Homo sapiens: one gene and its partner. The protein of the gene in region 2 purifies or fractionates together with the protein of the main gene of each other region. This does not show direct contact. Each region holds a gene or a part of one and is shown on either strand. Other genes may lie near its edges.

Region 1 (3,828 bases), on a different chromosome or scaffold from region 2:
CTAGAAATGGTGACTATAGTTAATAATAATATATTACATATTTGAAAATTGCTAAGAAAATAGATATTAAGTGTTCTTACCACAAAATGATAAGTATATGAGGTAATGGACATGTTAATAGCTGTATTAAGCTACTTCACAATGTATACATAGTTCAAAGCATGCTGTACACAATATATACAATTTTTATTTGTCAATTAAAAACAAAAAATAAGATCAATGAATAGCCATTTCTTTGTCATAAAACTTTTAAAAATTTTATTTCAATTTTTAGGAAAAATTCTTAAAAATAATGAGACTCTAGTACAACATGGAGTTAAGCCACAGGAAATTGTACAAGTGGAAATCTTTTCTACAAATCCAGATCTGTATCCAGTCAGAAGAATAGATGGATTAACTGATGTCTCTCAAATCATAACTGTCACTGTCCAAACTGGTTCGTTATTTGATGTCTTTTAGATAAAGTATTTTTGAGTCCCTTCTTGGTTGAGCTTTCATTGAATCTTGGTGTTATCTCTCAGGACTTGATCAATACCAGCAGGTACCTGTTGAGATTGTCAAATCTGACTTTCACAAACCATTTCTTGGTGGATTCAGACATAAAGTAACAGGAGTAGAGTATCACAATGCTGGAACACAAACTGTACCTAAAAGGATTCCCGAAAGACTCAGTATATTTTGTAGGGATACGCAGGTAATGTTTTTATTTGTCTCTTTAGGTTTTTGAAGGTATAGACTCAATAATTGTACTGTATGACTCTCTCAAATTTCTCTTAAGTAATTATATGGCAATTAATAAAAGAAAATGAACTCACATATGTAGAAAAACTCCCTTATGTATATATATAGGGGATACTGATTTAAATTTTTAATGTTTTCTTTTAGACAGTTTTTCAGAAAAAAAATCTCCAACAAACTACAAATACAACATCCACACAGATGACTAACATTGGTGTATATGTATCAAATATGACTGATAAACTGGTAACACCAGGAAAGTATTTTTCAGCAGCAGAATACCATGCTCAAAGACTAAAGGCGGTGAGATAACTTTTATTGTGGATGAATACTAAAAATTTGATATATAAGCCAGTTGTTCCGAGTGTGTCTCTTTCTCCAAGCCACATTTGCTTGAGAAAGAATGCTCATGAGTATGGGTCATATTTCACTGCTAACAAAGCAGTCTTTATCTCCAGTATTCCCCCATGTAAAGAACCAGCATCCTAAATGCTCCTAATCCTTCCTTTTCTCTTAGGGAAACCCAGCTTCTTTGTGTATTGCCTTTGGCCATTATTAGCCTTCTCAACACTGCTGTCCCTTGGCCTTAAATCTTGTCACAGTAGAATCACCAAGGGAACTTTCGAGACTAATTGAAACCAAATAGGACAGTAGTCGATTTTCTCTGATATTAACATAGCCGCTCCAACTCTGTTTTATTTTTTTGCATAGTCTCTCATTTTTCATTCTTTTACTTTCAACCTATTTGATCTACCTCCTACCATCAATTTACTGTGAGTAAAAATGACCTGAAAGCAGTGACTTTAAGAGATTTTGCTTTTCAAATGACAAGAAATCTGGAGCTAGGCTATTCAGCCCAAGACCTTTAGAGACAAACTTGTAGTGAAAAAAAGTTAAGTCTGTTGACTTAATTGCCCTGAAGGAGACAGTATACCAGGGGAACCATGGGGTTAACTTTATAGCAGGCTTTATCAGTGCCAGTTATTCCAGCCTGATAATTTTTTACTTTTTCAGTCCAAACTAAATTTCACCAAATAAAGGAATATATGGAGTTATTATATAATTTGGGGAAGAGTGAAGTTTGAGTGGGATTTAGGGGAAGCAGTATTCTGATTGTCTCAATGCAAAACAAGGGTGTGTATAAATGGGCCAACATTAGGTCTGGACTGTGAAGTAGACCAAGGTCACGTTCCTTTGGAAACAAAGTTAAAAGAGATGGGAAATGTTTCTTAGAAGTTCTCTGAAGTTCAGCACCTTGGTTGTATAATTGAGGCTGCTTCTCTCTGTCAAAGTGACGTGCAACCTCTAGGCAAGAGTGGAATGTTTGTTTCTTACTGATCTAATTTCAGACAGGAAAGTTTCTGATAGTTTCTGAATTTAGAGAACGAAGTTTCTCAGTGAGTAAGAAGATAGCAGTCACTAAAAGAAGGGGATTGTTGAAATATTTTATAGTTGTAGAGTGTCCTTGGGAGAAATACTGTTTTTGTTAATTTTGTAGCTGACCTGATTAGTGCCTGTTATTCCAGCCTGACAATTTTTTACTTTCTCAGTCTTAATTAATTTTTACTTTCTTACTATACTGGGCATGGGTGGTGACTCTATGATGTCATCAGAATCATAAACTCCTTTCATCTTTCTACTCCATTAAGCTCATCATGAGCTTGTTACTGTATGAAGATAAAATGGTTGACTAACTTTCATCATGCCTGCATTCCATGTGAGAAGAAGGGAAAAGTCAAGGCAGCATGTTCCATGAATGCCACCTTCAAGGATTTCCCCGGAAAGCCCCACCCAGTGACTTCTACTTGCATCCCATTGGCTTGAACTATGTCATGTGACTATCCCTACTGCAAAAGTGTGTGATAAATGAATTTTTAAAGTAGCATATCATTGCTCCTCAATGAGATTGCAATCTTAGTAAGAGAAAGTAGGGCAAAATGGATATTAAGTAAGGAAATGGAAATTTCTGTCATTTTCCAAACTCCAAAAAATGATATTGAAAGAATAAAAGTATAAATATACAAGGACAAAGAATACATGAGAAGAGTAAATGTGAGTTGTGTTTTTTTTTTGAAGTTTTAAAGCAGATGGAAAAGTGTTAACTTGACTTAGTAGAGCAGAGGAAGTGAAAATCTAAATGCTGCCAACGAGGATGGCATCAAGAACCAAATAGATTTGCCCCATAGAGTCTTGAAAGGTGAATTGGAGGTTCTGTGGGAGGTGGAAGTGAGGTGTGACCTGTTAACAGAGGAATTTGTTAAAAGCCGGTATAGGGAGTACATTTCCGTTTAATAAGTTCTTTTAACCTTGATTCCTTTCTACTTGGGTCATGTTTATTTTATTTTTTTAATAGGTTTTGAGTTCACTGCTTACTATTTTAAATCTTTCTTGTTTCAAGAAAGATGATATTTTGCGTGACTACTGATATTTTTGGACTCATTCTTGCTATTTCATTTTGTTTTATTTACTAATTATTCTTATTTGTTTATGCTTTTTTTAGCCTTTTCTTTTTGTTGGTTTGAATAAATGTTTCTTTTTTTGTTCTTTCATAGTTCAGAAATAAGTATTTTGTTTTTTCTAGTGGTTATGTTACAGAAAAGTGGTCCCGATCCAGACCCCAAGAGAGGGTTCTTGGATCTCCCACAAGAACTAATTCAGGGCAAGTCCATAGAATAAAGTAAAAGCAAGTTTATTAAGAAAGTAAAGGAACAAAAGAATGGCTACTCCACAGACAGAGCAGACCTGAGGGTTGCCTGGTGCTGGTTGCCCATTTTTATGGTTATTTCTTGATGATATGCTAAACAAGGGGTGGATTATTCATGCCTCCCCTTTTTAGACCATATAGGGTAACTTCCTGATATTGCCATGGCATTTGTAAACTGTCTTGGCGCTGGTGGGAGTGTAGCAGTGAGGATGACCAGAGGTCGCTCTTGTCGCCATGTTGGTTTTGGTGGGATTTAGCTGGCTTCTTTACTGCAACCTGTTTTATTAGCAAGGTCTTTATGACTTGTATCTTGTACTGACCTCTTATCTTATCCTGTGGCTTACAATGCCTAGCTGTCTGGGAATGCAGCCCAGTAAGTTTCAGCC
Region 2 (3,828 bases):
ATTGCACTTAGAAACCAATACAAACTTTAATAAAGGCACATACTGTGTATATGTGCAGCCATTAGTTTTGAATTATACATAATACCTTTTAAACAGTAGGTTGCCTAAGTTTATAAAACTTTCTATGAAGTACAAATGAAGTGGGGTGTAAAAATTTTTTGCAGCTTTTGAGCTGAGCAAGAATTTGAATGTATTGCTACCAAAGTAATTTATGAGTTGATATGTTTTGGGGGGAGAGGTCAGAAAAAGTGTTATTTTAAAATTATTTATTTATGATTATATTAGTATGGTTAAGATTGATAATTTGATGTACCCATATACCTTGCTGAAAAAAACCCCGAATGTCTACTAGCTCAGATTTATAAAACTGCTCAGTGAGTTCTCATATGTCGTAAAGAACTTTTTGTTTTTTAAAAGAAATCCTGGCCAGGCTCATGCCTATAATCCCAGCACTTTGGGAGGCTGAGGTGGGAGGATCACTTGAGCCCAGGAGTTCAAGACCAGCCTGGGAAACGTGGCAAAACCCCATCTCTACATTAAAAAGTTTGCTGGGTATGGTGATGTGCACCTGTAGTCCTGACTACTTGGGAGGCTGAGGTGGGAGGATCACTTGAGTCCAGGAGATTGAGGCTGCAATGAGCCATGATGACACCACTGCACCCCACCTCCACCTCCACCCCGTGACAGAGCGAGACCCTGTCTAAAAAAAAAAAAAAGAAAGAAAAAAAAAAGAAATCCTAAAAATTACATTTTTAGTGCAGTTAAACTGTGATTTCAGTTTCTTTTCTTATGCATGTATGTGTGAACTGTATAAAGCAAGCTTCCATTATCTTTGCATTATTGCTGTACGTCGGCTTTTCTTTTTCCTAATTGGGGAAATATTTATTGTTTTGATATATTGTGTCCTATATAAGTGAGTTTGGGTTCTAATGAATATCACAGAGTGAAAATTACTAGCTTGTATCATTAGAGTTTGAAGATATTTTTGCCTCTTATGTTAATCTTTAAGAAACCAACTTCAGTTCACTAATATTTGTATTATTATTATAGTATATCTACTTCTGATTTGGTTAATAGTACAAATGTAAACCTCAAATCAGGTAGGGAGGAAGGATACTGAATTAATACTGCTGGACAGTTCAGATTTTACCATCCCCACCCCTTCCCTTTTAACAAGCATTTATAAATATTTACAGTGAACTTTTTAGAGAAGTTAATTTTTCTGAAACAAATGAGCATATCTCATCTTCAGATTTTTTACTTGGATTCCTTACTAGCTGCTTTTGTGAGAAACATGAAATTTATTCTTACAACTATGTTTTGGTGGGAGCCTCTAATAAATATCACCCTAGTGGGTTTGTTGGGAAAAAGTTCTGGCTAGGACCATGGCTTTTAAGGTAATTTTTTACAGTAGTTAAAAACATTAGCTTGCATTTCACTTACTGGTTTCATTAAAACATGTTTCATATCATTTGATATTATAATATTTATATGATTTTTTACAGAATGTACTTAATGATTTCAAAAAATAATTTAAAATGTTAAATTTGTTGTTAACTATAACATATAGAAACTGCATAAAACCAATGTACAGCTTGATGAATTGTTACAGGACAAACACCTTGTAAATTTTATCCTGGTTAGGATATAGAACTTTGCCAGGCACCCTGGAAGCTCTCCAGATTCCTCTTAATCACAACTCTCTTTGCTAAGAATAATTCCTATCCTGACTTTTATGGATTTTATTTACTTTTCTTTATAGTTTTGTTGCCCATATGTGCATCCCTAAATACTACAGGGTTTTTTTTTTTTTTATGTCTTTTAAATCTCTATAGATTTCTTGTAAGAAAAGATACAAAGTAAACTAAAATGGATTACATATCTTGGATTACTTTAGTTTACTCACATGTGTACTGGGAAACTGAAGTACTCATATTTTCCCCAGTTTAACTGTGCAGATTTTTTCTTGTTAATGTTAAGTATTTTTTCATCTTAGACATTTTTTCTTTTAATGATACTGATCTAATTTCCAGAAATGGACAGAAATAGACAACTTTTAAGACTATTCAAACAAATATAGAGTAATAATTATCCTTCATAATTTTGTTCAATTTTTCCCCCAACAAAATGAGTTAAAAACACATTGTTTTGTCTGAAGAGCTACATCTCTTACTACCAACTTTATTTTTAGAACCTGAGGTATAACTTCTGTGTTCTCTTGATTGTTTTAACAGCTTTAATTACATTGAAATGTAACATTTGGTTTATTTTCCTTATTTGATGGCTTTGTCTAAATAACTTGATCATTATTCAGTTATTTTAAAATTGACATTGCTCTTCCTTTTGGATGTTTTATGAATGCTGAGAAGAGACCTAATTACTGTTTATAAGGACTGACTCTTCTGTTGTTAAATTTTGAATTTGTAGGAAGTTGCTTGCTCATTTGTTATTAATGTATTCTACTTTCTCTTTGAAGAATGTCAAGCTGTCAGCTGAGGTGGAGCCATTTATTCCCCAGAAGAAGAGTCCTGATACATTTATGATCCCTATGGCTCTCCCAAATGATAATGGAAGTGTTTCTGGTGTGGAACCAACTCCAATTCCCAGCTACCTGATTACTTGTTACCCATTTGTGCAGGAAAACCAGTCCAATAGGTAATTTGTTTATTTTTATTTTCTTTTTTGTGGGGGTGGCTATAAAAGCTGGCAAAGTGCACTTAATATTTTTCCTTTGCAACTTTTAGACTTTAACCATTTCTCTATTAAGAGGAGTAAATAAAATGATACTGAAATTTGGAAATTGTTGATATGGATTAGTTTCTCATTTTTTCTAAGAGAAAATTGAATTCTTAGGCTATGTCTCCTTCAGTAAGTCATTGAAATTTATTTGAAGTAAGTCAGCTCAAAGGGAGAAATAAAATATTCAGAGGTGAACAAAAACCTTTTTTTTTTTTTTTTTTTTTTTTTTTTTTTGAGATTGAACATCTAATCTCATAGTTGCCAAGATAGTCTCTGGTGTAAAAGAAAATACCAAGCAATAGTCCTTAACTTTGAAGCTGTCATGGTTAGCATATATTAGTATTTCTAGACTCAGATTTTAGTTTAAATTTATGTCTGTGCTATAGTTACAGGATGATTTAGCAAAATTGCCCGCAATTAGGTCATGTGTAACCTAGTGGTTAGGGTGTTACTTATGATAGTCGTGATAGCCATTCTAACCCTGCTTATACTGTCTGAGTGATTAGCACTTCATTGGTATAGTTTATTTTATGGCTGTATAAAAGTACTTTCAGCCTTTTTCAAGTTATGTCACACAGAAAATTTCGTTTTTCTAGGACTGTAAATGGATGAGGCAGCTGTTAACTGGCTATAGGCTCTGTCATTCCTGAGGGCTGAGTCAATCAATATTTCCACCCATCTATAAACCACTGTTGCACATTAGTGTGCCAGTGCACATTCTTTGAGAAATTGTGGATGTATGGTATATAAGGCCATTCAACTACTCAAATATTAAATGTTCAAGTTAATATTCTGAGGCTGTTAATCAAGAGTCTTGAGGGTTAGACAAATAGTAGAAACTAAGGAATCATTTTCAATTGAAGTTAGCATGATATTAAATATCTTTGCCTATATTGGATAATGTGCAAACTGATTCATGAAACTAAATTTAATAATACTATTTTTCTATTTGAAAAAATGGCCAAGTATACAGTATGATAAACTTAATTGATTTTCTTGGTTTACCAAATAATCTTTGTGAATTTATGAGTAAACAAGCCAACAGATTATTTAAAAAATATTTTTAAGAATATGGCCGTGAACATTTTA

The links.
Region 1: the proteins of SECISBP2L (region 2) and IQUB purify together in Homo sapiens (co-immunoprecipitation; one large-scale study listed by IntAct). This does not show direct contact.

What each region holds. Positions count from the first base shown.
Region 1 is NC_000007.14:123,499,810-123,503,637, reverse strand, and holds part of IQUB (IQ motif and ubiquitin-like domain-containing protein), read left to right. Parts: intron 1-274; coding exon 275-436; intron 437-521; coding exon 522-694; intron 695-885; coding exon 886-1,041; intron 1,042-3,828. UniProt on the Homo sapiens protein: Adapter protein that anchors the radial spoke 1 (RS1) complex to the A microtubule of outer doublet microtubules in axonemes. The triple radial spokes (RS1, RS2 and RS3) are required to modulate beating of the sperm flagellum.
Region 2 is NC_000015.10:49,036,418-49,040,245, reverse strand, and holds part of SECISBP2L (selenocysteine insertion sequence-binding protein 2-like), read left to right. Parts: intron 1-2,476; coding exon 2,477-2,655; intron 2,656-3,828. UniProt on the Homo sapiens protein: Binds SECIS (Sec insertion sequence) elements present on selenocysteine (Sec) protein mRNAs, but does not promote Sec incorporation into selenoproteins in vitro.